4 linked regions of the Homo sapiens genome follow. The main gene of each other region encodes a partner of the protein of the gene in region 2 in a complex. Each region holds a gene or a part of one and is shown on either strand. Other genes may lie near its edges.

Region 1 (7,026 bases), on a different chromosome or scaffold from region 2:
ACCACAATGAGATACCATCTCACACCAGTTAGAATGGCGATCATTAAAAAGTCAGGAAACAACACGTGCTGGAGAGGATGTGGAGAAATACGAACACTTTTACACTGTTGGTGGGAGTGTAAACTAGTTCAACCATTGTGGAAGTCAGTGTGGCAATTCCTCAGGGATCTAGAACTAGAAATACCATTTGACCCAGCCATCCCATTACTGGGTATATACCCAAAGGATTATAAATCATGCTGCTGTAAAGACACATGCACACGTATGTTTATAGTGGCACTATTCACAACAGCAAAGACTTGGAACCAACCTAAATGTCCAACAACGATAGACTGGATTAAGAAAATGTGGCACATATACACCATGGAATACTATGCAGCCATAAAAAATGATGAGTTCATGTCCTTTGTAGGGACATGGATGAAACTGGAAACCATCATTCTCAGCAAACTATTGCAAGGACAAAAAACCAAACACTGCATGTTCTCACTCATAGGTAGGAAATGAACAATGAGAACACATGGACACAGGAAGGGGAACATCACACACCCGGGACTGTTGTGGGGTCAGGGGAGGGTGGAGGGATAGCATTAAGAGATATACCTAATGCTAAATGACGAGTTAATGGGTACAGCACACCAACATGGTACATGTATACATATGTAACAAACCTGCACGTTGTGCACATGTACCCTAAAACTTAAAAGTATAATAATAATAAAATGTAAAAAAAAAAGAATTAAAAAAAAAGAAAGAAAAATAAAACATAAATAAAATAAAATAAACTTATGTTCCTTTGCTAAAAATGTATCCTTTGAGCTAATCCCAGCAAAATATAAGTTGTGTAAGATTTGGGTGTCAGAGACCCGTTTCTCAACAAGACTCAAACAAACTCTGCCAGACTAATTCAAACAGAACAAAGGAAGTGCTAATGAAAGATACAAGCAGGCTGGTCATGGTGGCCCATGCCTGTAGTCCCAGCACTTTGGGAAAGCGAAGTGCGCAGATCGCTTGAACCCAGGAATTTGAGACCATGCACGGCCAACATAGCAAAACCCCGTCTCTACAAAAAAGTTTTTAAAAAACTAGCCAGGTATGGTGGCGTGCACCTGTAGTCTGAGCTACCTGGGAGGCTGAGGTGGGAAGATCACTTGAGTGAACCCAGGAGAGGAAGACTGCAGTGAGACAAAATCACGCCATTGCACACTCCTGCCTGGGTGACAGAGTGAGACCCTGTGGGGCGTGAGAGGAAGGGGGAGAGGGAAGAGGGGGGGGAAAGGGAAGGGAAGGGAAAGGAAGGGAAGGGAAGGGAAGGGAAGGGAAGGGAAAGGAAGGGAAGGAAAGGGAAAGGAAGAAGAAAGGAAAGGAAGGAAGGAAGCAAGCAAAAAAGCTACAAGCAAAGCTCAATAGGTGCTCAGAAAATAGATTGTAAACTGAGCCTAGGAGAACGTGTAGAGTTTTAACAGGCTGAGAAAGGCTAAGAAAATAAATGAGCAAAGGCCCAGGGATAAAAGGGCAGTAGGAACAGAGTGAGTGTAGGAAGTGGTAGAAGAGAAGCCTAGTTCTATAATATCCAGTACCTTACAAACATGAAGTAAAAAAGGCCTGGTTTAGTGATTCCCTGAATTAGGTGCTTCCCTGCATAAGGACAGTTACCTGTAGCAGCTCTTTAGCTGAACCTCTCTTCTCCACATCCATCTCGAGACAGCGGTTCAGAAAGTCCCGGAAGATAGCTGACAGCTTCTCTGGGTTCTGAAGTTCTGGGGTCCCATTGGTGGCAATGAGGTACAAGGCCTGGCAATAAAAATGGTGAATCACCTTGAGCTCCAAATGAGGCTCTCTCTTGTTCCCCATATACAAGTTCTAGAAATATGGTCAGCTGCTTTATGCTCTAGGATGCAAAGTAGCAGCTGTGTATATATACTGGAAAGAGTATGACCTAAGGATCAGGTTGAACATTTAAAGGCCATGGGACTATGTACAACTTCCCTGTCTGTAAAGTAGGGATGATGATAATGCCCATCTCACATGTCTGTAAAAATAAAATAAGATAGTGTATTTGAAAGTACTTTGTAAACTTATGAAATATGTTACAGACCTAAGGGTTTATTCTTCTTCTTCTTTTTTTTTTTTTTTTTTTTTGAGATGGAGTCTTGCTCTGTCGCCCAGGCTGGAGTGCAGTGGCACGATCTTGGCTCACTGCAACCTCCACCTCCCAGGTTCAAGCAATTCTCCTGACTCAGCCTCCCAAGTAGCTGGGATTACAGGCACCAGCCACTACACCCGACTGCTTTTCGTATTTTCAGTAGAGACGGGGTTTTACCATGTTGGCCTGGCTGGTCTCAAACTCCTAGACTCAAGTGATCCTCCTGCCTCAACCTCCCAAAGTGCTGGGATTACAGGCGTGAGTCACTGTGCCTGGCTTTATTATTATTCTTGCTTACACATCTGAAGGGTTTATTATCCATTTAGCCTGTTGAGTTAAACATCTGCCCAGCTGCTGGCAGAAATTATTCCTGGTGCCTTCACCTCAGTCATCCAAGAACTGATCTCTTCTAGCAGGAAAGGAATATTAAATGTAAGTGAAAACTGTTGCCACCCTAGTCCCCTAAATGAAGCGTCTCCTGGGAAAGGTAAAGAAAAACAGTAAGACTAAATCTTTACAAGCACTCAGCACTTAATTCAAAGAGTACTTACATAAGCACTGTCTAATTTAATGGCCACAATTAACTCTGGGTAATAGGGCAAGACTTATCATCTTCACTTCACAGATAGGGTCCGGAAACATAAAAAGATATGTCTAGGGCCGGGCGTGGTGGCTCACTCCTGTAATCCCAGCACTTTGGGAGGCTGAGGTGGGTGGATCACCTGAGGTCAGGAGTTCGAGACCATCGAGAACAGCCTGACCAATATGGCGAAATGTGGTCTCTACTAAAAATACAAAACTTAGCTGGGCATGGTGGCAGGTGCCTGTAATCCCAGCTACTCAGGAGGCTGAGGCAGGAGAATCGCTTGAACCTGGGAGGTGGAGGTTGCGGTGAGCTGAGATCACACCATTGCACTCCAGCCTAGGTGACAGAGTGAGACTCCATCTCAAAAAAAAAAATAAAATAAAAATAAAAAAATAAAAAAATATGCCTATGTCTAGGATCATTCTGTCTTATTTCCAACATATCCCAGCAATTATCATCTTCAAATATCTGCAAGGCCGTTCTAAGGGAGGGAAGAGTATGTTGTATGTGGAGTCAGAGGCAAAGCTGGGATCAAAGGATAGAAACTACAGAAGGTAGTTTCAGTTTGGTGCACTGAAGCAATTTCCAATAATCAGAGATATTCAAGGATGACATGAGCATGTAGATGACCACCTACCAGCAACAGTGCACAGGGAATTCCTGCACTGGATGGGAGGTGGGAATAAATGAGAAAATAAAAGCAATCAGAATAAATTTCACATTTGCCCACACCAAGATTACCAACCTATTTGCACCTGTGTTGAGATGCTCTGTTACAAGGGATAAATTGTCCATGCTAATCTAATGTCCTTTACTTCAGTACTTGATCGAACCCCTCTCATCGACTTAAGGATATCACTTCTATGGTTGTCACTTCCTTCTTGTACATGACCATTTTCCTCCTCTCCACTAAATCATTCCCATTAGCACACAGACATCATCTTTTAGAAAAACCCTCCCTTGACTCCATTTTAAGATAGTGCTCCATTTTTGTTACCCTTCCCAGCAAAATTCCTTTAAGAGAAAAAAAAACCTGTTTATACATGCCATCTCAATGTCCTCTTCTTCCACTTTCATGAATTTAATTAGACTTTCATCCCCATCTCTCTACTGATAACTGATTATTAAGGTCATTAAGAACCTCTACATTGGCAAATCCAATGTTCATTTCTCAGTCTCATCTTAACCTATCAATCACATTTGACACATAATCTACCCTCCTCCTCCTTCGGGAAGCACACTGTTCTCTTCATCTCCAGGACACTTCACCTCCAAGACACTTCTCTGTTCTCTCACACTAGAAAGGCCACTCCTTGGTCTACTTTGCTAGTTCTTCCAACCTGTAAACAGTGGAATAACCTAGAGCTCAGTACTCAAATCTCTTTTCTTTAACTGTACTCATTCCCTAGGTGAGTGATCTCATCTACCTACTATATATACCAACTATATATTATCTACTAATAAATTTATGTTTATAGTCCTGACTTCTCACCCTTGAACTCCAGACTCTTAAGCCAAACTCTACTCCAGCTCCACTTAAATGTCCAATTAACACTTCAAATCAGCACATTCAAAACCAACTCTTTATTACCCAACTTAAGTATGCTCTTCACCATTTCAACAGATGGCAACTGAATTTTTTCAGCAATTCAGACCAGAAATCTTGTAGTCATTGCTGATTCCTCTTTCTCTAATATTCAGTTCATCTTGTCAGCTAGTCCTTTAATTTCCTGAATCTGACCACTTCTCACTTCCACTCCTACCAAGACACCACCACTCTGAACTATTACAACAGTCTCTCGCAGTCTATTTTCCATAAAAGCGGCCAAAATGATCTGTTTAAAACATAAATCAGATCACATTACTCCTCAGCTCAAAACCCTCTAATGACTTCCCAACTCTGCAGAATAAAATAACTTATAAGAGAGAACTTCCCTCTCTACTCTAAAATAGCACACCTGTTCCTCCATTACTCTGTTAACTCCCTTACTTTGCTTTTTCTCACAGCATTTACCATCTGTTACTACATATTAATTTATTTTATTTTCATTAGAATAGTTTCTTGCACTTGACAGGGACTCAAATAATTGTTGAATAAATGAATGAGTGACTTCTAATATTCCTTTTCTTTGGCCATTTATACTTTAAGTTCAACAGTGACTAGTTGTATCCAGAAAAGGGATCTCCAGGTTGAAAACCACAGAGAACACCCTGGATTCTTATTTCCTGGGACTAGAGACAACAGCCCAAATAACTTGAAATAGAACTGGTAACACTCACTCTCAGAGGGTTTTCATTGAGGTATGGAGGCTCCCCTTCAATCATTTCGATGGCCATGATGCCCAGGGACCAGATGTCAACCTTGGGCCCATAGGCCTTTCGTGTCACAACCTCTGGTGCCATCCAGTATGGGGTTCCTACCATGGTGCTCCGTTTGCTCTGCTCTGGGGTTATCTGTGCACAGAATCCAAAGTCAGCTAGAAAAGAAAAATAAGAGAAAGAACATACATTTAGGATATACACTCACTTCAGTAAGTGTTGACTGTGTACCTACACATAGGTGACAAGATCCGCCTGGCTTCCAGCTCTGCTATCCTTTGTCTCTCCAAAGTCACTTGACTACCACCTTCATGTCTAGCTCCTAGCCTATTTCCTATTGAACCCTGAAGAGAAATAGAAGGAATATAAGAAACACCATCTCTGGCCTCCTACTTCTCCTCAAACCAGGGGACTTAGTGTTAAAGTCCAAGCTGCCCATTTTGGTCTTGATTGCTCATCCCAATTCTGCTTTGTTCTTGAAAAACCATTCCCATAATCCCAAATCTGGCGACTAGGTCCTTGTCTTATTCCTTGGGCACGAGTCCTTGATTTAAACCCCAATCACCTATGACTAGGCATGGCCCTGTTTTTATGCCCCAGACCCAGGGCTGCTAGCAGTCCTTCCATAAACTGCCCATCCACCCATGACACAGCCTGTTTGTCTGGTCTACTGGTCTTTACACCTTTGAACAAAATGCTCTACCTGCCATGGTTTTTACATTATATTGCAATTATAAATTTATTTAAATTAGGAAGCCTTTGAGAGTATGGATTATGTCCTCTTACTTGTCCTCATATCCCTAGAAGGACCAGCATGTACTGGACATTCAATAAAAGTTTGCTGAATAACTGAATGAAAGAAATTATACAAAACTCTTTTTTCTAATTATCTATTACACGTTTTCCATACTAGATTGAGAAGGTAGGGAAAATTTACTCTCAGTGCCCATCACAGGACCTAGCACAGAGTAACCATTCAGCAAAGTTTTTTGTGGTTGTTGTTAAATGTATAAATGAATGAAAAAATAATGAAATGATATCCTATGATTAATACAGAAAATATAAAACAGCCCTCATATCCCATGAAATCATAAAGACCCTTTGGTGAGTGTCGTAGTTACTATTATATGATGACCATCTCACAGGAGACAGGGCCCCACAGGCAGAGAAGTATTATCATTCCTAAGGCTCCTACTTACTTAGCTTGACAGAGCCATCCATTCCCAACAGAATATTGTCACTCTTGATGTCTCTGTGAATGACCTGGTTCGAATGCAAGAACTCCAGAGCCTGCAGACACTATTGAAGTGGTGTGGGCAGGGGGAGAAAGAAAGGACATACATATAATACAGAAGACTTAATAGAAAATCCACTAATTCAACCTCTTCACTTTAAAATAAAGGAAGTAAGGCCCCAGTGAGTAAAAGGACTTGCCCCAAATCAATCGCAGAGCCAGATCTAGAAACAAGTCTTCCATCTCCTAGCTAAACATTCTTTTAACACTCCATGCTGCCTTTCACCTTAAAACAGTTTTTTTAAGTAAAGGAGTTCCTCCAATGTAATTTTTTTTCTAATTAGATCCTTGGTAAAGGACCTAAGGCCCAAGAGAAATTACTGAAGAAAAATGGAAAGGATCTTATAATGACAGACCAGAGGAAAACAACAAATAAGGGTCATATTTGAGGAAGCAGACATATGGAAGTGATACTAGAAGCAGTAAGTTAGCAGGATAATCTTATTTTGGTGAGGAGATATTTTGTACTATTTTGGATATGCTGAATTTGATATCTGAAGACAAATGTCTGGTAGGCAACTTAATTTATGATAAATTATGGTAAATATTTACAAGTCATTTGGGAAGAGATGATTTTTGTTTAAGTTATAAAAATGGTTGAACCCGGCAAAGGGTAAAGGAGAAAGAGAAGAATCTTGGAAAACACCTATACTTAGCAGGCAGAATGAGTAATAAAGAGAC
Region 2 (6,939 bases):
ACTTTTTTAAGGAGGGGGTGCTTCAATTTGCAATTGCAAAAATGTATATATACACACACATATATATACATAAACACACATATATACGTATATATACCCATATATACACATATATATACATACATATACATATATATTATATATATACATACATATACGTATTATATATATATACGGGTATATATGTATATATATGATGGAATACTACTCCGCCATACAAAGGAATGAATTAATGGCATTCCCAGAAACCTGGATGGGAATTGGAGAATATTATTCTAAGTGAAGTAACTCAGGAAAGGAAAACCAAACATCATATATTCTCACTCATAAGTGGGAGCTAAGCTATGAGGATGCAAAGGCAGAAAAATGACACAATGGACTTTGGGGACTCAGGGAACGGGTGGAAAGGGGGTGAAGGATAAAAGACTACAAATTGGGTTTAGTGTATCCCAAGTTACTGCTCGGGATATGGGTGCACCAAAATCTCACAAATCACCACTGAAGAACTTACTCATGTAACCAAATGCCAACTGTTCCCCAAAAACCTATGGAAATAAAAAATTTAAAAAATAAAAAACTGAGGGGATGCTTGAGCTGGGTCCTGAAGGGTAAGCAGGAATGCACCAGGTGGGTGCAGAGGGAAGACCTTGGTGGCAGCGGTCCAGGTCCCACCAACAGGGCGAAGACTGGTGGTGGGAAAGAGTGTCTGGAGGATGACCAAGGGGGCTGAAATGGGTTGGGGTGCAAGCGGGAGGTGGTCGCTTTTTGACACAGCTTGGTCTCTGAGAGTTCGCCTTGGGAGGCTTTTGAGGGGAGGGTAAAGGTGCTGGTGGTGGGGTTAGGTCAGATCTGATTTAGCCAGTCCTAGTACCCACACCCCTACTTACTAAACTTGCATGTTTCCAGGCCCCATCCAGACCCACTGAATTGAGCGTCTTGAGGGAAACTCAGAAATATGCCTGTTCACTGAGTGAAGGTGATTTGGGGGCTGCAGCCCTGTCCCCGCTAAAGCAGCACATGGGAGAGGTGGGAGCTGGGCCTATTCAGGAGCCCCTCTGGAGGTGGGAGAATAAGACCAGACCTTTAGCCCTGTAGGTACTGAGGCTCTCATGTTGGCAGGGCTGGAAAGTCCGATCTGTTGGTCTGTCACAGGAAGCAGTGGTAGCAATGGTGGTGGTGGGCACTGGAAGCAGGGCTTCTCCTGTTCAGAGAGAGAAAGCCACAGGGGCGCCGGCGGGAGGTGGGAGCAGATGGGGGGCCAGTTTCCCAGCAGGATTGATTCCAGGTCCCCTGCTGGGCTGTACAGGGAGCGGCCTTTAACTGCCCTGTTCCTGGGCCAGGAAGAAGGAAAAGGAGCCTGGGCTCTTTCTCTCCTAGCTCCTGCCCTGCCCCCTTCCCACTCAGTACCCGGAGAGTACCTGCCCCAGGCCCGTGGAGATGCTCGGCTCAGCTGGTTGGCGATGCCCATTCCCATCCCAAGGGTAGAAATGCACAAGCTTCCTCCATTTCACTAGCTGACCCTCCTTCCTCCACAAGGCAGATGGATTGGGGGTCCATACGTTCTCCCTATAGGTAGGGAAACTAAGGCACAGAGAAGGACTTGAAAAGCTGAAGTGGGGAGACCATGCCAGACCTTTGGAGCCCAGCTGTGCTTACAGATGAGGTCCTGAGTTCCAAGTTACTGCCCCCTCTCCCCTCCACACACACTCCTCAGACTTCCTGTTGGGGGCCCAGGCTAAGACCACTTGCCCACACCACTGATAACAGTGAGTTGATTGTGAGCCTCCCGTCCCCTCCAGGGAGGGCTGGAACCTGGCTGATCAGAGGGTTCCTGCTTTGGGAAACAAAATGGGCCAGATGAACTCAGGCCCTGGGAGCAGGACCGTTGCCCCCGTCCTGAGTAGGACTTCCTGGGAGTCCCTCACCCCCAGAACCCGTGGACCTGGCTACGGAGGTTAGTCATGCCTGGAAGTGCCAAGATGTGGACAGGTGGTGCTCAGAACCCCACCTACGTGAGGAGGCACTGAACTGGGTTCTGGCAGTTTGGCCAGAGGAGGATGCATGCTAACAAGGCCCCCAGCTTGCCTGGGGACTGAGTGACTGTGTGTGCGCTCTGTCCAGGGGCTTCTTTTTAGAGACGTTCCTGCACCATGTCTGCTGTTGAAAGGAGATAGGGCAATGCCTCCAAGCTTGTCTGACCTGCAGCCTACCGGCTGCATGTGGCCCAGGATGGCTTTGAATGCTGCCCAACACAAATTCATAAACTTTCTTAAAGCATGATGAGGTTTTTTTGTGTGTGTGGTTTTTTTGTTTGTTTGTTTGTTTTAGCTCATCAGCTATGGTTAGTGTGAGTATATTTTATGTGTGGCCTGACAATTCTTCTTCTTCCAGTGTGGCCCAGGGAAGCCAAAAGATTGGGCACCCCTGGCCTAACCCAAAGGAGGCTAAGGGTGTCCTCTTGGGCACCCTGGTTTTCCATCTTCCTGTGGGATTGGCCAGTATTCAGGGAAGAGGGGACCAGGGCAGCTGATAGCTCTGGACTCCTCAGACTGAGTTTGCTGGAGTAACACCCCTCCTGCCCCTCCCCCCTGGTCAGGGAAGGCGCCTGGCTTCCAGCTGTGAGACAGGCTCCGCAGGACTAGGGACCCTCCCCGCTGGCTGAGAGCGCTAGGGAGGGGGCTTCCCCTGTGAGGTGCAAAACCCGGCCTGGATTTCTGCCCAGACGGCCCCGCCCACTCCAGGGCCCCACCTTCCCCACTGTTCTGGAGGAAGATCCCCTAGCCGGCCTCAGGCACTTGCGGTGACTCACACCCCCCACCCCTAAGTCTGAATGTTGAGAGCCCCAGGCTAAGACCACTTGCCTCTGCCACTTTCCATGTGACTGAGGCAAGACCTCCTTGCCAAGGCCTCAGTTTCCCCCTCTGTACTTCAAAGGAGGCAGCTCAGGCAGGTGTCTTAATAATTTAAACGACGAATATTGCTAAAGAGATAAGGGGCGGGGAGAGAGAGAGATCACTGTGGGCCATGGTTAGGGAAGGGTGGAGGAGCTGGGTCCTGAAAGGGTGGACTTTGGTCGGGTGGAGAAAATAGCCAAGAAGGCAGTCCCTGCTGGCAGCACAGCAAAGAGAAGTGAGAATTAGGGGGAGCAGAGGTGAGGCTGGAGGGGACTTTGGTTGGGGCAAGATTATTTGGGGTCCAAATAACAAGGATGTTTAGACGTATTGCCATTGTGCTCTGGGGAGCCACGGAAAGCTCTTGAGCTGAGGAGTGACTTGGAGAAAGTTTTTCAGCCAATGCAATAGAGGGAGTTGGTACCTTTCCTTCTGCCACCCTGAGTTTCTGGTGCCTACGGTAGGGTAGGGATTGTTCTGCCCTGCCTTCAGTGCTTTGAGTGCTTGAAACAGACACCGTAATTTTAATTACATAAAAATGATACGTGTATCAGACGGGACAACCTTTAAAACGTAAAGAAGAGGCAAGTATCCTGCATCACAGGGGAGTCTTTCAACCTGGCTGGGCCAGGGCCTGCGGAGCAGTGAGGGTCGTTTCTCAGCCCAGCGAGCCTGGGGCAGGAACGGACCCTAATTGAAGGTGACCGTCCCCAAGCATGCGTCCTACCCCGGGCTCCGGAGAGCGCACAAGCAGGTGTGCACCGTCTACCCGCGCTGGCGGGATTGGGTGCCTGGTGCGCCCTCAGGTCGACGGTCGAACCCTCGGGGGCGGGGGTGGGAGCCAGAACCCTCGGGACGACCCGTCTGGGGTCCCGGGGAAACTCCGGGCCGCCTCGCCCCGCCGATTCCAGGCCGGGATTTCTCCCGCACTGACTTTCCGGGCCGGTGCCAGCCCGGCCTCCGGGTCCCCAGCCCCCGCCGCGGGGCCGGCTGCTCGGGGAGCGGGAGGGGGCAGGAGGCGGAGGAGGAGTTTGAGCGACTTTGTGGGGCAGCCAGGGCCTCGGCGGCCGCTCGGGCGAGCGCGGGAGAACGCGTGGGCGCCCGCCGGGCTGTCCGGAGCGGCCGATGGGGCCCGTGTGAGCGCGCCCAGGCCCGGCCCGGTGCCCGGCGGGCGGCAGCATGTCCGCGGGCGGCAGCGCCAGGAAGAGCACCGGGAGGTCCTCCTACTACTACCGGCTGCTGAGGCGGCCCCGGCTGCAGCGACAGAGGAGCCGCTCCCGCAGCCGGACCCGGCCTGCCAGGGGTAGGCGCCACCCCGACCCCTGACCCCTAGACCCTCCTAAGGCCACTAAGCCACCTGATGCCCTGGGATGCTAGGGACCGGGATCCTCCTTCCAGCCATTTGCCGGGGGTTTCCTCATCCGCCCCTTCCTGAGTCTGCCGGACCCCCCATTCCCCCAGCTTCTGCTTAGTCCTCCTCTCGCCGGGGGAAGCCGAGGCTCTAGGGTCTCCTCTTAAGCCAGGGACAGGGAGAGGGGAGCCTGGAATCTTTCTCCGCATCTCAGATCAGACCTCCTACCCCACTGTGCCTCAGTTTACTCAGCAGCCGGGCAATAAAGTAACCCAGGGTGGATCTGAGCTTTCCCACACCTTGCCTTCCCAGCCCAGGCCGCGGACTTCTTTCTTCCCTTTCCAGGAACTTAACGGGCTCCCCACCTCTTGGGTGCTAGGACAAGTGGGTGGACCTCAGGGAAGGAACCGTGACCCCTCGAGCGGGTGGGCGCCAGCTCCTTTGCAAAGTTTCTCTCCATCAAGCTCAGGAGGCAGGACGAGACGGAGGGGGAGGTGCGAGCAGCATTTTCTTTTTCCAGTAACAGGATCCTCGGCTGGAAATGCGTGTGATCCCGGGGGCTGCGTTTGGGCGGGTGGTGGCCGGGACTTCCTTCCCTGGCTGAGTAGGAGGGAGGGAAGCCCCTGGGAGGAGGAGGCCTTCAAAGGGGCTCTGGGGAGGCTGGAGTCCTAGGCAGAGGTTCAGGCCCACCGAGGGTGCCCGTGGGGTGGAAGGGAGGAGAAAGACGGCGCCTTAGCAGGGACCTGGGCCGAGTTGACACCATCAGGTTATCTTGAAAGTGGGAAGCCGGGCCCTGTGCCAACAAATGCCATGCAGGGAATCTGGTAGACCAAGAGGGGCCACATTCCCACCCTGCAGGCTGCCGTTGTGTGACCTGGGCTGAGCTGCCTCTGAACTTCAGTTTTCTTGTCGGTGTGAGGGTAAATGAAGCAGGCAGGTAGTGTTCGGTTGCTTCCACCAGAATGGGGAAGACTTTTCCCACAGTCAGGTCTGAGTAGCACTGTGCAGTCCAGGGCTTCCTCAGGAAGTAGTGAGTTCCCTGTGCACAGAAGGGTTCAAGCTGAGGCTAAGTGTGTGCACAGGTGTGTGCTGGTAGTTCAGTCCTCAAGGGTCTCTCAAAGCCTGCAATCCCCCCACTCCTGCCTTTCCTGAAGTCTTAGTAAGTACAGAATTAACAGTACTAAGTTACTTAGTAAGTACAGAATTAACAGTACTAAGCCTTTAGTACTCCTTGGAGGGAGTACTAAGCCTTTAGTACTCCTTGGAGGGAGTACTAAGCCTTTAGTACTCCTTGGAGGGAGTACTAAGCCTTTAGTACTCCTTGGAGGGAGTACTAAAGACCTGGGGAAGGCTTTATCTCAGTGGTTCAGGTTTTGGTTCTTCTATCTCTGTCCTTCTATTTAATTCTGTACTTGCTAAGACCTGGAGAAAGGCTTAGTACTGTTAATTCTGTACTTACTCCCTTCCCCTGGACTTGGTCTGGGAGACCGGGAATCTGGGCTCAAGCTTTGTGACTTTGGGCAAGTCATTTCCCCTTTCTGAGCTTAGTTTTCCTGGTTGTAAAATGGACCTGCCGTATGTGGAGGATTCAGTGAAGAAACTGAGAAATGGGAGCTTTGAAAATGCCCAGTACTGTTCAGACCACCCTGGGGCCTCTCCTTCTGCACCCACCTCACGTCACCTCACCCACCCGCCCCTCCTTTGCCTCAGAAATGCCCTGTGTGACCTTTTCCTCTTCTCACCTCAGCCCAGTTCCATCCCTGACTGTAATGGGAGTCTCGCTCCTGTTCAGCTGACCTCCTGCTCAGCTGACCAGGCAGGGGATAATCAATGTGTCAGGGGCTGTCACCTGAGCCCCAGCTCCCAGACCCCACATACACAGGATCACTGCTTGTGTCCCAGCTTGAAGGAGCTCACGGCCTGCAGAGCGGGGAGGAGACTGTCTCTGAACAGAAGTTATATCTGGGGAGATCAGGGAGAGCTTCACAGAGGAGGTGACATTTGGATGGGATCTCACAAAATGGATAGGGTTTCCCTTCGCAGAGGGAGTAATTGAGTCAGATCTGGGTTCAAGTCTCAGCTGTGCACACAACTATTCTACAGCCAGTTACCTCTCCAAGCCTCAGTGACCTTGTGTGGTCAATGGGGCTAGCAGTGACAGGGTCATGTGAGGGCCAGAAGCCAGTGCCTGGGACTAAGGCTGCAGCTGAGGGTGAGCTACTGTCTTCTCTCTGGACAGAATGAACAGACTGCGCAGTCAGGGAGAAGGAAAACGGCTTGGGTATTGAGAATAGAGTTCCTCCTGGGTTTGGGGAGGGGAGTGGATTGGGAAGGGGGCTGGGTGAGTGGGTGGGGAAGAGCAGGCAACAGTAGTTTGGATTTGATAAAGGGCCTTGAACTTTGGGAGGCCAAGGCAGGAGGAATCCTTGAGCCCAGGAGTTCAAGACCAGCCTGGGCAACATAGCAAGACCCTGTCTCAATATTGTTTTTGTTTGTTTGTTTGTTTGTTTTTTTAAAAAAAGAAGGCCTGGAGTGATGAGGAGTTAGTTACAGCTGCAGCCAGGGTGTAGGGTGGAGGCTGGAGGCACCCTGTCCTCCTCCTCCTTGGTGGGAGGCAGCTAGGGCAGCCATTGCCCTCCCTCCACTAAAGCCTCAGACGCCTGACTCTACCCCAGAGCCACAACCACCACCTGAGGG
Region 3 (7,026 bases), on a different chromosome or scaffold from region 2:
TGACACATAATATTTTAAACAAAGCAATTTACGAAGCTGGATAATGAAGATGAGAGCCAACCTGAACACTGGCTTAAGTAAAATCAATGAGAGTATTTGCTCTAAAACTCATACCTCACATATCTGCATTCTAAAGTTTTTTTAAAAAATTGCTTTGAAATATCTATTGTAGAATTTCTTTGCTGCTGCAACTACCCAGGGAGGTGGTACAGCTTAGTGGTTAATTAAACTCTAATGTCACATTTCATTCATTCACTCATTCATTTAACAGATCCACACTGAGGACCTACTATGGGCCAGGCACTGTTCTAGGCACTTAGAATACAGCAGAGGAGAAAACATATAGAAATACCTGGGCTTATGTTTTTGCAGTAGAAGCCAGATGATAAATTATCAGCACAGTAAGTAAATTATACAGCATGTTAGAAAGTGACATGTTATGACCAAAAAAATATAGACCCGAGTGAAGAGGATCAGCAGGAAGGCTGCCATGGTAAATAGGGTGTTCATGGCTGGTCTCACTGCAGAGGTGGACATCTGCGTTGAGACTGGAAGAAGGTAAGAAAGTTACCCATGCAGACAGCTGGGGTAGCGGCAGGAGGAAAAGCCTGTGCAAAGGCCCTGTGATGGGACCCTGCCTGCTGTCATGGAGGAAATGCAGGAAGGTCCACGTTTCTGGCTCTGAGTAAATAACAGAAGAAGAGTAGGAAATGGGGTCTGAAAGGGAACAGACTCCGAATCAGGTCAGAGCCTTGTCCCCCACTATGAGGGTTCTGACATTTGTTTACTCTGAACAAAAAAAAAAAGCAAGCCACTGAGGGCTCTGAGCAATAGGACTTGGTTTATGTTTCAGAGGGATCACTCTGGCTGCAGTGCTGAGAGTAGACAGTAGGGGGCAAAAGTGAAGCAGGAGCACAGTTGGGGAAGCCACCGAAAATGCAGGTGAGCGATGAGAGTGGCAGCAGCAGAGGTGGTGAGAACCGGCCCAATGTTGGACATGTTTTGAAGGCTTCGTGGACGGACTGGGTTGGAGTGTGAGAAAAGAGAAGTGCCCTGGATAACAATGTCGGGAGTGGCTGCCAACTGGGACAGAAGAGTGTGCCGGGGACAGGTTTGGGAGAAGATAATTAATTCCCTTTGGCCTGTTAAGTCTTGCTTGAGTCTCAGCTCTATTACCAACTAGCTTTGTGACCTTGGGCAAGTTATTCAACCTCTTTGAACCTTCATTTTCTCACCACAAACTGGGATAATGATACCTAATGATTAAGGCTGATGTATGAATTTCAATAAAACAACATATGTAAAGCACTTAGTGCAGAGCAAGGTAACACAGTAAGCACTCCATAAATGGTGATCACTGCTGCCTTTTCCCTCATCAAAATCACCAAAAGGTGATGCAGACCAATTTATTGACTGAGCACCTGGGACTAACCCACCTGGGACTTAGTGACCACCAAGTTCACGTTTGAAGCCTATGATGTGCAGGGCCCTCGGGACCGGTGCTGGGGACAGATCTATACATGTTAGTGACACACGTCACTCTTACGTGACACCAGTGGAAGAGGTCCAAGAAAAGGGCTCTGTGAGGACTGCTTTCCTACAATTCCTTTGGAGATTTTACAAAAAAGATGTTCCCCAGATTAGTAGCAGAAGATACTGTGTTAACATCCTGTCCCACAAAGTGTGTGAAACGAGGGATTTTCCTCTCAGAAATTACTGAGTCTTGACAGCACTGAAACTGCTGCTTGCCAAGTTAAGAGTAAGAGGAAAGAAATGTAAAGACATTTGAAGTTATTAATAGGTCAGAATTTAGTTTTTTCAAAAAAATATATTCAAAATGTGTTTAATTCTGTACCCTAAAATATCCATTGCCCTGAGGTGGGAGCTGGGCCAGGGGTATTGCTGACTGAATGCTCTAGGGAAAAAACTTACACAGAATGTCTCTCTCTCCTCCTGCAGGAAGGTAGAGAGAAAGATGGACTAGAGCCAGAAGGTAAAAGCAAAGAGCAAACAGTAGATACAAAATCTGAGTTCTGGCTAGGCGTGGGGGTTCGCACATGTAATCCCAGCACTTTGGGAGTCCAAGGCAGGTGGATCACTTGAGGTCAGGAGTTTGAGACCAGCCTGGGCAACATGGTGAAACCCTGTCTCTACCAAAAATACAAAAAATTAGCCAGGCATGGAGGTGCGTGCCTATGGTCCCAGCTACTAGGGAGGCTGAGGTAGGAGAATCACTTGAGCCCGGGGTAGGGGAGGTCACAGTGAGCAGAGATTACACCACTGTACTTCAGCCTGGGTTACAGAGCGAGAACCCATCTCAAAAGAAAAAACAAAAACAAAAAAACAGTTTTGCCAGGCATGACATCCTAGATACTTAGGAGAGTGGGGTGGGTGGACTGCTTAAACCCAGGAGTTCAAGACCAGCCTGGGCAACATAGCAAGACCCAGTCTCAAAACAAAAACAAAAACAAAAAACCAGTCTGAGTTCTATCCGGTACACACTGCTGTGACTTCTGACTGCAATGTCACTTCTCTCCCAGGTAATTTCCTCATCTACAAAATGGAGGTACTCCCACCTACCTCACAGAATTGAGATGGGGCCATGTTGCTTCATATTAGACCAAAGATTATTCATGATCTTTTTCTCTTCCCTTCCCCTTACCCTTTTTTTTTTCCTGCTAAATTTCTCTCTATAAGAAGAACTTAACACTTCATGAGAATTAGCATGATGGAGTGATAAGAACTAAATGGAGATCAGGTTTGAAGTCTCACACACCCTCCCTATAACTGTTGGGCAGTCATGAATCTCTTGAGTCTGAGCTTCCTCTTGGCTACTGTTACCTTTTTGGAAATCACTTGGTCTCCACCCTCCCAGTACTTTGCACCAGAGGCAGCTCAGTGGTTGCGTTGCCTACTTTCTCAGGAAAGCTCTCTCCCTCCCTTCTTCTGAGTCGGTGAGTCACTTCCTCTTCTGAATTGAAATCCTAGGGTTATTTATATTGTGGAGTAGGGGAGTCAACCACAGAGAGTAAACAGTAAAAGAGGGAATTCATCGTCCAAATGGGAAGTGATTAGGGTATGAGTAAGCATCACAGAGAGGTTGGGCCAAGGAAATGTTTAATAAAAAAAAAAAAAAAAAAATCTTGCTAGAGTTATTGTAGGCCAACCAGGAAAGAAGTAATTACATGAAAAGAAAAATAAGTAACAAGTTGAGAATTAAAAAAAAAAAAAAATCTTCAGTGGCATTAAGCAGGAGACTAACTAAGCAAGTCATATAAATACAGGAAGAGAAAAGGGCCAAATCAAATTCTGTAACACATTTTTCAGTGAGCATCAAAAGATACCAACATTGGCCAGGCGCAGTGGCTCACGCCTGTAATCCCAACACTTTTGGAGGCCACAGGTATATCGCTTGAGCCCAGGAGTTTGAGACCAGCCTGGGCAACATGGTGAAACCTTGTCTCCATCAAAAATACAAAAAAATTAGCTGGGCGTGGTGGCGCATGCCTGTAGTCCCAGCTACTCAGGAGGCTGAGGTGGGAGGATTGCTTGAGCCTGGGAGTTTGAGGCTGCAGTGATAGGTGATCACACCACTGCATTCCAGCCTAGGTGACAGGGCAAGACCCTGTCTCAAAAAAAAAAAAAAAAAAAAAAAAAAAGAAAGAAAAGAAAAGAAAAGAAAGAAAAAAGATACCAACATTACTGTGTGTGAGAACACCAACTGAATTTCTCTCTCACATTGTGCTCAAACTCAGCAATTATTTCTTTAATTACATAAGATCTGTATCATCATTGCAAAAACATACCAGTAAAAGTTTCAGTACAGGGGTTTATGCCAGCAAGCCTCTTTGATGTTCCGAAGTCAGAGATCTTGAGAACACCACTGTAGGTATTAATCAACACATTGTCACCCTAGAGAACAGAGGACTTTAATCACAATTGTTATCTTTCTTCAGATACTGTCTGTTGTTGACTTGGTAAGTCCAATTTAAAAAAAAAAAAGGTGTCCTTACAGCTACCAACGACATTAATTCTGTATTCTTCATTAATAGTTTATCTCAATAGTGCATTCTTGACACTATTTTTTGTTTACATATTATCAGTTTGAAACCAACCGCCTTTGCGAAAATTACAACAGTGAGAAAATTATGACAGTAAAAGAGATCTGATCTAACCACCACCATCTTGCTTTAAATTTCCAAACTGCCCTTGGTCATTCCAGGGTGTAGACCAAGCTCACTTGGAGAAATTTAATTTATAGTTTAGTTGATAATAGCCCTTCCCCAAAACTAAACTATCTTTGTAAAACTAATGAAAGGCCACCAGGTTAGGAGGATGAGAGGGGCCTAAAGTCCGCTAAGATGTAGGCACAGTCAAATGATTATCAGCCCATTATTCTGGGGGTCACAAGATTTGCAACTTCCCCAATTGTTCCTATAATTGACATCACTATTGTAGAACTGAAGACTGGCCTTTTGAGATGTCTTTACAGGCTTCTCCATTTCTGACTATCAGATGGCATCACCCAGACCTGTGACTCTGGACTCAACCAGTCCTGTGGCCCCTACCCAGAAGTGGACTCAACACACAAGAACCATTTTCCACACCCCTATAATTACATCCCCAACCACCCAGACCCTAGCCCCCTGCTCACCAAACTATCTTTGAAAAACCCTAGCCTCTAAATTTTTGGAGAAGCTGATTTGAATAATTATAAGATCCAATATTTTGTTTGGCCATCTCTATGTGTATTAAACTCTTTCTCAATTGCAATTCTTACATCTTGAGAAATCAGCTCTATCTGGTCAGTGGGCAACATGAACTCATTGGATGGTTATAAGTTCTTCATAATCTGCTACTCAGATCACAAGATCAAATATGATTCCTAATTGGTTAGAGCTTGTTGCTATTTACAGATATATAATGATGTATGTATAATTAAATTACGATTTTCATAACTTTCCAGTTACCTTACTTTCTTTTCTATGTTTCTTTACTTCTTTTCCTGGAATATGTAGGGACATGATAGATAAATGGGCTTTTTGGTTGATTTTAGGGTACTAATATTAACTTATTTTCAACAGTCCAGACTTTGTAAAAAATGTATTAGTTCTGAATTTTCTTTTTAAAAAGAGAATGTAAAGTTATTATTTTAGCTTATTTTAGAGAATCTATACCTTATAATTATAGTTAAATCAATGAATATGTGATACTTGTGAGAAAAGAGGAATTTTTTTTCTTCTAACCATTCATCCATTGATTCAATAAGTATTTACTGAGTAGCTACTATGGGCAAGGATACAAAGATTAACCAGCCTATAAGCTCCTCAGGACCAGGGGCCATCTCCTGTTTAACTTTTGACAGCTGCATCCCACACCACAGAGCTCCTAGGAAACATTGTGTGGTGGGAGCACAATCTTGTTGGCTGAACGCAGTTAAGCAGTGTGTTCCTTGAGCAGAAGCGTTAAGACATGAACATAAATAACTGATTCAGGGTTGAACGATATTTTATATTTCTGCTGTTTCTAAGATTTACTTATTCACCATTCTAAATTAATACTCATAACACAATATGACTTTTGCAAGTAAAATAATAACCCAGCAAAGAAAGAACTCATGAAAATGAATGCTGGTGTACCTCACCTTTATGTCCCGGTGAACTATCTGATTGTCATGGAGATATTTTAATCCTTCCAGTATTTGCTTTGTATAAAAGCCAATTGTTTGCTCATTGTCTTTTAATGGACCCCATTTGGAACGAAGGAGAGCAGAAAGACTTCCTGTAAAGTAGGGATAAATAGTAAATAAATCCTCATTCAAATGAGCTCTTTAAAGTGTATTAATAATGTAACAGTAATTTAAGCTAACAGTCATTGGTTCTTCACAGTGGCCCAGGAGCTATACTGGATATCGGGCTCAAACATGAATTTGCAAATATCCCTACTCTAAAGATGCTTGTAATCAAATATGTCTAAGTAAAAGGCCAATGTCAATTGCCAACTTTAATTCAAGTCATGATGATAGATACTGAAATGGTTCCCATATTTATGTATTGTCTCTGTGAAATTACATAATTCACATGTAAAGCTTCTAGAACTTTAAATTATTTGAGCCTTATTATTTAAGGAATGTGACTTTGTGGCCTGAGTCATATAGCATTCAGTTGTAACTTCTGATTCTGCGATTATAGGCTAAATCTCTTCCGCATTTTTGTCCTGTAAATGATTGGAGAAGACTGAATGGTGCCAAAGAAAAGATCCCCCGAGACCATTACCCCTCCTTATGGAACATTAAAATAATGTGCCTTGGAATACAGCAAGCTGTAACCACTTAAATGTAATGACTTTGGGTAGAAGATGTTGCCACCCTGTTAGTCTTCAGCTTATATAAGTGAAACATGAACTTCCTCACTTTGGAACACTGGCCCATTCTTTTGGAGTCTGTGTTTCCTGGGTGGCTATCCTCAAGCTTTGCACTGGAATAAACTCTATACATTAGGATATTTTCTAAATCTCATCATTTATGGTTGACATCTCCTAACAAACTGGAGGTAATGTCACATGTCCAATTTTTCTTTCAGTTTAGACAGATTAAGACCTGTACGCTAGTAAATCCCATTCAATTTTACTCCCCTCCGAAGCTCTAAACATTCACACTTTTTAAAGAAAGAAATATCTCTTACCTCCAGGGACCTGCTCCATGAAGATTTTAATGAAACCATTCTCACTGAAAGAGCCCAGATACTGGACAATATTTTTGTGCTTCAGGTGTTTATGCAATGCTATTTCTTCATGCAGGGGCTGAGAGTATCTAAAAGACATGCAATTGTCAATGAGTTAATTATGTAGCCAGACTTTACTGTATAAATTTAAACAATACAAATGGAAAATGTCAGCCAAATATATGTCCATATGTAAAACCAAAACAACCACTTAAGGCCTTTATTTCTCCTAAGGTAAATTCTATGAGGTTGAAGGTGTGGTAGGATCTGAGGGGAAATGTGTCAGGTACTAAGCCAGTTGTAT
Region 4 (7,074 bases), on a different chromosome or scaffold from region 2:
GGGATCGACCTCTCAATAACATTATTTTACAGAGCCAGTCTATGTATTGTCTTTTCCCCAAATATATATCTTTCTTTTTCTTTCTAATATGGGGGTAGGAAGAGAGACGCAGGCATCCATTTTAGACTCAATCATTATTATTTTGAAATTGCTTTGCTAGGCTGGTAATATAAATTCTAGTTCAGTTTATTCTGAATCACAGAAAGGCTCAGAGAAAAGAAAGAACCTGGTTAAGATTTCACAGCTAGGGAAAGATGAAAACTTGAAGGGTACTAGCAGGACGGTTCCAAAGACAAATGTACAAGAGAATTGAACCGTTTCACATTGTTCACCACTAGACTGTTAAAAACAAATATACATATTTTAAAAACTTACCTTCGATATACGAATAAGGTCCCTTCTATATCAGTCTTCTCCTATGAAAGACAATGACTCAATTAGTTTTTTTTCCCCATAATCAGACCCCAAATAGTCCCCATGGAGAAGTAATGCTTCACGTTTAAGATCAACTTGTTTCATTTCATCTATTATAAAATTAACCACTTTTGAACAGGTAAAGTCTCCCTCTCATTCCACAAATTGTGGTTACCATTTCTAATGTATCCTTTCAGTGCATAAGCATATGCAATATTTAATCCAGCAACATATCTGTATCTGCAGTATTTTTCTTTTTTAATTAGTAAAGGAGAAAATCATAGAATAAACCTTCACTTTTTATAGCTAAAATATTTTAGCCAGATTTCTTAACTTTAAAGCTAAGGTCCTGTATACTGCAATTTCTTCTCTTTTAAGTTTATCCAAGTTAATTTTAAAAAAGGAAAGGAATGAAACTTTCTTATAGGATACTTTGTTTCATCACTAGGGAGTTTTCGTACATTTTGACAACTAGCAAATTTTGTGGTTAAGAATTACTACCAAACAAAATCAGCTTGTTATTTTTAGAACTTGAAGAATCTTGAATACTGAAAGTATACCCTGCCTCAGTGTAATTATTGGAGGCCTTTACCATAGTTCATTTTCTGTGACAAGAGTGTATTTAGGTTTTAAACACAGTTCAGTGTTTTTTAAAAAATAAATAAGCTTATTAGTCTGCAATTTACAGCCTACAATGGACCTAAATATTTTACTGTAATCAACGCATTATTAACATTTTAAATGTTAGTCATATATTGAATGTGTTGGGATTAAAAAATTTAGAAAATTGATCATCTCGATTTCTTCCAGAAGTACTACCCTAGCTTAAATATCATTATTTTCCTTCCTAAGGATTCAGAGGCTTTTTCTTACCTTTAAAATGTTAGGTTATTACTATAAGAAACTGGTAATCAACTGTCTTACAGTAAAAGAAAATTTGCCCACCAAAAAACATCATGCAAAGTTACAACTCACTGTAAAATAATAAAGAGGGAAAAGATTTTTGTCATGCTCTATGTGCCAGGATCCAAATAAACAGTAGCAGCTTATTTTTCAATTCAGGTTATTATAGCTTGTATTTCATATTTAAAACAGAACTCCACAATGTAAAATTTTAAAATATTGAAAGCCTTTGTGAAAAACTAGGAAAACTCTAGCCCCAAGTCTTCACCATTTGTCGGCAATCCATATTTCAAAATTTATATATAGGCCAAGAAAAGAAAAAAGATTCATAAAATTTCAAACTAAGGCAATGTCTAAAATAGCTACATTTAAAAAACAATCTACAATTTTATTCCTTGTGGCTTCCCATATCTCCTTCTCTTCCAGGAGGCAAAGATAAACAACGTGATTATAAAAACTCTTCATCTGAATTAACTGTTCATAAATGCCAAATGATTTTCGATAAATTACTGATAAATATAATCTATGCAACTGTATTATAGGGTAAACGACATACTACGGTCATCTTCCAGAGTTCTGTCAGTTTAAGGATTTCGTATCTTATTGAAATGTGAACTCCAGTCATTGGTGAATTCAATCCAACAAGCATTTACGTATTACTTTCTAAGTGTAAAGCCTGTAGCTGAATGAGTTAATTAGGAAGGGTCAATTACAAGAAAGTGGGAAATTATGCTTTTTAAACAACTAACAAAGCTTCAAGCAGGGGCTAACAAGAATCAGTGAACACACTGAATGTGACTTTTCGGACCCTCCCCAGTGCACGAAAGCCAGAAAGTACTGAGTCCGAGGGGAGCATTCAGAGATGACATCACCAGCATCATAGATGGAACAAAACACATTTACAGGGTCTCTCTTGTTTGTACAAAGGTCTTCGGGGATCCAGTGAACACGGAAGCCCTTTTCCTAAGTGCCTTGGAATCTTTTCCGAAACTCTGTGTAGTTCGATTAAAGCCGGACCCACCCACCCCCTCCTTCCAAGAATCGAAACTAATTGGATTTTAAACTTTAAACCCAAATGACCTCTGCGACAGGGGCTCTCATTTACGTTTGCCAGGGGGAGAGGAGGAGTGTTTATTTTATAGATAATGTACATATAATTTATCTAATAATCCGCAAAGCCTCAAACACAAGCTTTCAGGCACCCTTTTGACCCCACCGGTCTTATAACTCCCAATGTATCTGCAAAGAAGGCAGGTCGCCCACGTCCCCAGACCCGACGCCAAGGGACTGATCCTGCTCCAATCCTCCCCTCCACTGGCTTTTCCTTGGGATGTCTCGAGCCACTTCTCTCACTCCTATCCCCCAATCCCAAGCGGACCCGACACCCCTCAGGCTCTGGCTAGGCTCTTGGCCAGACCCTGGCCTCGTCTCCACCGCCCTGGCCTCTTAGTGTGCCCCCCCACCCCACAGTAACCCGCGCGGCCCCTTTAAGAGACGGCAGCGGCCGGGTGGCCGTCCTCAGGGCCAGGCGGCACTCACCCACTGGTTGGCCTTGGGGCAGAAGGTGTACAGAGCGACCTGGCCCGTGAGGTCTGCGATGCTGGTGATATAGGGGTCGTGTTGCTTCAGGGCCGCTAGGCTCATCTCCTGCCCAGCTCGACTCAGCGCCTCCATCTTGAATCCCAGAGCCTAGCCCCTCTGGTGGGGGCGGAGTCGCGGACAGGAAAGTGCCATCGAGGCAAAATTCCCCCATCTGCGTCAGTCCCCTCAACTTCCGCCTCTACGCGGGCCTCGCGGCAGGGCGGTACGTCAGCCATTCTGGTCCGCCGCGCGCACGCTCCGGGCGCCGGGTTCCGGCGTTGTCAGGGTCCGCGGCCCTACGATGTGGGCGGTGTCCAAGGCTGCGTAGTGGAGCTTGCAGGCTGGAGCTCCGGCGCTTCCTTTCCCTGAGCTAAAACGACTGGGTCCTGGGATCTGGCCTCTAGCTCGCCTGCCGAGCTCTTTCCAGGCAAAGGTTGGAGACCGCCGAAGTGCCGGCCTCGCGGTGCGCTGTCTGGCAGGGCCCGGGGCCACAGAAGGAAAACATGTCTGTGGAATGTGGAAATGCGGGACTCTACCGGGCCCGTTTAGAGAGCACAGAAAAACATGGGGGAAAGGGAGAGGCGAGAAGCCCAGAAAATTACCCTAGGTCTCAGATATGGATGTGTCGACCTAAAAGGAAGAAGACTCTGGGGCAAAATAAATGCAAGCAGAGAGTTTATTTGGGCCAAGCTTGAGGATTGCACCCCAGGAGCATAGATTCAAGTTGCCTTGAATATATACACTGATTAGCAGAAGGTACAAGTGGATTTTTTTTCTTTTTTTTTGAGACGGAGTTTCACTCTTGTCGCCCAGGCTGAAGTGCAGTGGCGCGATCTCGACTCACTGCAACCTCCGCCTCCAAGGTTCAAGCGATTCTCCTGTCTCAGCGTCCCCAGTAGCTGGGATTACATGGGCGCGCCACCATGCCCTGATAATTTTTGTGTTTATAGTAGAGACGGGGTTTCGCCATGTTGGCCAGGCTAGTCTCGAACTCCTGACCTCAGGCGATCCACCCGCCTCTGCCTCCCAAAGTGCTGAGATTACAGGCTTGAGCCACCGCGCCCGGCCCTTTTCTTTTTTTCTTTTTGAAACGGAGTCTCGCTCTTTTGCCCAGGCAGGAGTGCCGTGGCACAATCTCAAGCTCACTGCAACCTCTGCCTCCAGGGTTCAAGCGATTCTCCTGCCTCAGCCTCCCAATTAGGTGGGATTACAGGCGCCCGCCACCACACCTGGCTAATTTTTTCTTTTTCTTTTTCTTTTTTTTGAAATGGAGTTTCGCTCTGTCGCCCAGACTGGAGTGCCGTGGCGCGATCTCAGCTCACTGCAACTTCTGCCTCCTGGGTTCAAGCGATTCTCCTGCGTCAGCCTCCAGAGTAGCCGGGATTACGGGCGCCCGCCACCACGCCCAGCTAATTTTTGTATTTTTTTTAGTAGTGACGAGGTTTCACCACATTGGCCAGGCTGGTTTTGAACTCCTGACCTCAGGTGATCTGCCCTCCTTGGCCTCCCAAAGTGCTGGGATTACAGGCGTGAGCCACTGCGTCTGACCCACATAAATATTTTTGTCCAGCCCTGGGAAGAGTCCATGAAGGGTTTAATTTGTCTTGCTTCATTTAAAGCATTAAGCAGATCACTCATTTCATTGGTAAGTGTCTGTTGAGCATTTTAAAGCGTTTGAAAGAGTTAGGCACTAGCTAACAAGTAAAACAAATCATGGAGACTATAGGGAGTTCTATCCCCGCCAGACTTCTTAAAAAGCAACATTTCTTTCGTTAAAAAGGTCATGGAGGCTGGGCGTGGTGGCTCATGCCTGTAATCCCAGCACTTTGGGAGGCTAAGGTGGGAAGACCGCCTGAGGTCAGGAGTTTGAGACCAGCCTGGACAATATGGTGAAACCCCGTCTCTACTAAAAATACAAAAATTAGCCGGGCGTGGTGGCGCACGCCTATAGTCCCAGCTGCTTGGGAGGCTGAGACAGGAGAATCACTTGAACCCGGGAGGCGGAGGTTGCAGTGAGCCAAGGTGGTGCCATTGCACTCCAGCCTGGGCGACAGAGCAAGACTCAAAAAAAAAAAAAAAAAAAGGGTATGGTAGCTAGATGTGTGGGCTCACGCCTGTAATCCTAACACTCTGGAAGGCCGAGGAAGGTGGACCACTTGAGGTCAGGAGTTGGAGACCAGCCTGGCCAACATGGTGAAACCCCATCTATACTAAAAATACAAAAATTAGCTGGGCGTGGTGGCACATGCCTGTAATCTCAGCTACTCAAGAGGCTGAGGCATGAGAATAGCTTGAACCCAGGAGACGGAGGTTGCAGTGACACAAGATTGCACCACTACACTCCAGAGCTTGGGCAACAGAGGGAGAAATTCCATCCAAAAAAAAAAAGGGGGGGGCATGGTGGCATGTAACTGTAGTCCCAGCTATTTGGTAGGCTGAGGTGGGGATCACTTGAGGTCAGGAGTTCAAGACCAGCCTGAGCAACATAGCAAGACTACGTCTGGAAAGAAAAAAAAATTGACATCCCCAACAGAATTGAAAATTTTTGTAAGATAAAACCATATTTTCAAGAAAATAACACTAAATATTTGTATTGCCTATGATTTTATATCCCAGGACCACTGTTTTTTGTCATTGTGTTGATGAGAAGAGTCAAACTCTGTAAAATAGTTGAAGAAATTTATTCTGATCCAACTATGAGTGACCATAGCCCTTGACATAGCTCTCAGGAGATCCTGAGAACATGTGCCCAAGGTGATTGGGGCACAGCTTGGTTTTATACATTTTTGGGAGAGATGAGACATCAAATACATTTCAGGTGTATATTGGTTCTGTCCAGAAAGGTGAAACAACTTGAATTGTGTGCCAGCACACCTGGCTAATTAAAACTTTTTTTTTTTTTTTTTTTTTTTTTTTTTAGAAATGGGGTCTGGCTCTATTGCCCAGGCTGGTCTCAAACTCCTGGCCTCAACCAATCCTCTGGCCTGGGTCTCCCAAAGTGTCCCTGATAAAATGAGTTTTTTCCCCACTGTGTATCAGTCACAAACAAAGAATATCCCATTGAAAAAGGCAATCAGGTTTTATTCATTTGCCAGGGAATGGAGAAGGTGAGCTCTTCCTCTGAAAGCATCTTTTCTTGAAGAATAAAAGGCAAGGGGTTTATTGCCTTTATTCCTATGGGGCAGGAAAGGAATGTTAGTATGTGCAGGGTGGGACTCCAGACACGCAGGCCCAATTCATAAACATGCATCTTCATATATCATATGTACACAAAATGGCAGAGATTTTCTTTTAGGGAAGGGAAATTAGCATTATAATGATATGTTCATGATCTAAAGGCACCCAGGGTTTGCCAGTTCCCATTTGCGCTGGTTTTATGGTGTCTTATCTTCCTCTGGCATCTGGTCAGGGGTCAAGAAGCTCTGGCGCCATCTGGTTTCTTTAAGCAGCAGTGTCTATAGATAAAGGGACCAAAGAAAAACAATAAGAAAAAGGAACTTTCCCAGTTATTTTGTCAGGGCTGTCCTGGTTAACAAAAATGCTGAGATTACAGGCTTGAGCCACCGTGCCCAGCCCCCCTGTTTGTTAATGTAAAGAGAAATTTAGATTCTTTGCAGAATCATGTAAACATGTACAAATGTGGACAAAGACACAGATATCATTCATTCACTCTTAAGTCAGTATTTATTGAACTCCTAATTGTGAGCTGGTGGCCCCTTGGGAGCATCTCACTCTGTTTAAGACATTCCTGGCTCTGAGGGAAAAAAGAAAGTAGGACAGTGCAAGGAAACAGGGATGATGCTAGAGACATTTCTCTTTGAAATCCAGAGGACAGAGCCGCTAACTTAACTGGCTGGGAAAGTCTAGGAGGGCTTCCTGAAGGAGATGATGTTCAAATTGGTGTTCTAGGGATGACTGGGAGTTCAGGGGAAAAAAGTAAGGCCTCTGGTTCATTTCACAGCTCAGTGGTGAGGTAGAGAAGATGTCGTCACCCTCATTTGACAGATGATTTAATTGAGACCTGTGGGGAGAATTCACTGGCTCAAAATTCCACACTAGTCACAGAGGATCCAGTATTAGAATCTAGGGACTCCTATCTTCTACCCTGGGATCCTTTCCTACACGCCCCAGATGCCTTTCTTCCTTCCAGTGGCTGGAGGTAAGAGCCCTATTCCT

The links.
Region 1: DAB2IP (region 2) and PAK1 share a complex: the UniProt entries of both Homo sapiens proteins name them as parts of the cytoplasmic complex.
Region 3: DAB2IP (region 2) and MAP3K5 share a complex: the UniProt entries of both Homo sapiens proteins name them as parts of the cytoplasmic complex.
Region 4: DAB2IP (region 2) and DCP1A share a complex: the UniProt entries of both Homo sapiens proteins name them as parts of the cytoplasmic complex.

Annotation. Positions count from the first base shown.
Region 1 is NC_000011.10:77,331,074-77,338,099, forward strand, and holds part of PAK1 (serine/threonine-protein kinase PAK 1), read right to left. Parts: intron 6,351-7,026; coding exon 6,251-6,350; intron 5,210-6,250; coding exon 5,013-5,209; intron 1,795-5,012; coding exon 1,657-1,794; intron 1-1,656. UniProt on the Homo sapiens protein: Protein kinase involved in intracellular signaling pathways downstream of integrins and receptor-type kinases that plays an important role in cytoskeleton dynamics, in cell adhesion, migration, proliferation, apoptosis, mitosis, and in vesicle-mediated transport processes.
Region 2 is NC_000009.12:121,647,706-121,654,644, forward strand, and holds the start of DAB2IP (disabled homolog 2-interacting protein), read left to right. Parts: upstream 1-3,928; 5' UTR 3,929-4,070; coding exon 4,071-4,194; intron 4,195-6,939. UniProt on the Homo sapiens protein: Functions as a scaffold protein implicated in the regulation of a large spectrum of both general and specialized signaling pathways.
Region 3 is NC_000006.12:136,607,476-136,614,501, forward strand, and holds part of MAP3K5 (mitogen-activated protein kinase kinase kinase 5), read right to left. Parts: intron 6,812-7,026; coding exon 6,684-6,811; intron 5,782-6,683; coding exon 5,645-5,781; intron 3,913-5,644; coding exon 3,807-3,912; intron 1-3,806. UniProt on the Homo sapiens protein: Serine/threonine kinase which acts as an essential component of the MAP kinase signal transduction pathway. Plays an important role in the cascades of cellular responses evoked by changes in the environment.
Region 4 is NC_000003.12:53,344,527-53,351,600, forward strand, and holds the start of DCP1A (mRNA-decapping enzyme 1A), read right to left. Parts: upstream 3,018-7,074; 5' UTR 2,992-3,017; coding exon 2,857-2,991; intron 417-2,856; coding exon 376-416; intron 1-375. UniProt on the Homo sapiens protein: Necessary for the degradation of mRNAs, both in normal mRNA turnover and in nonsense-mediated mRNA decay. Removes the 7-methyl guanine cap structure from mRNA molecules, yielding a 5'-phosphorylated mRNA fragment and 7m-GDP.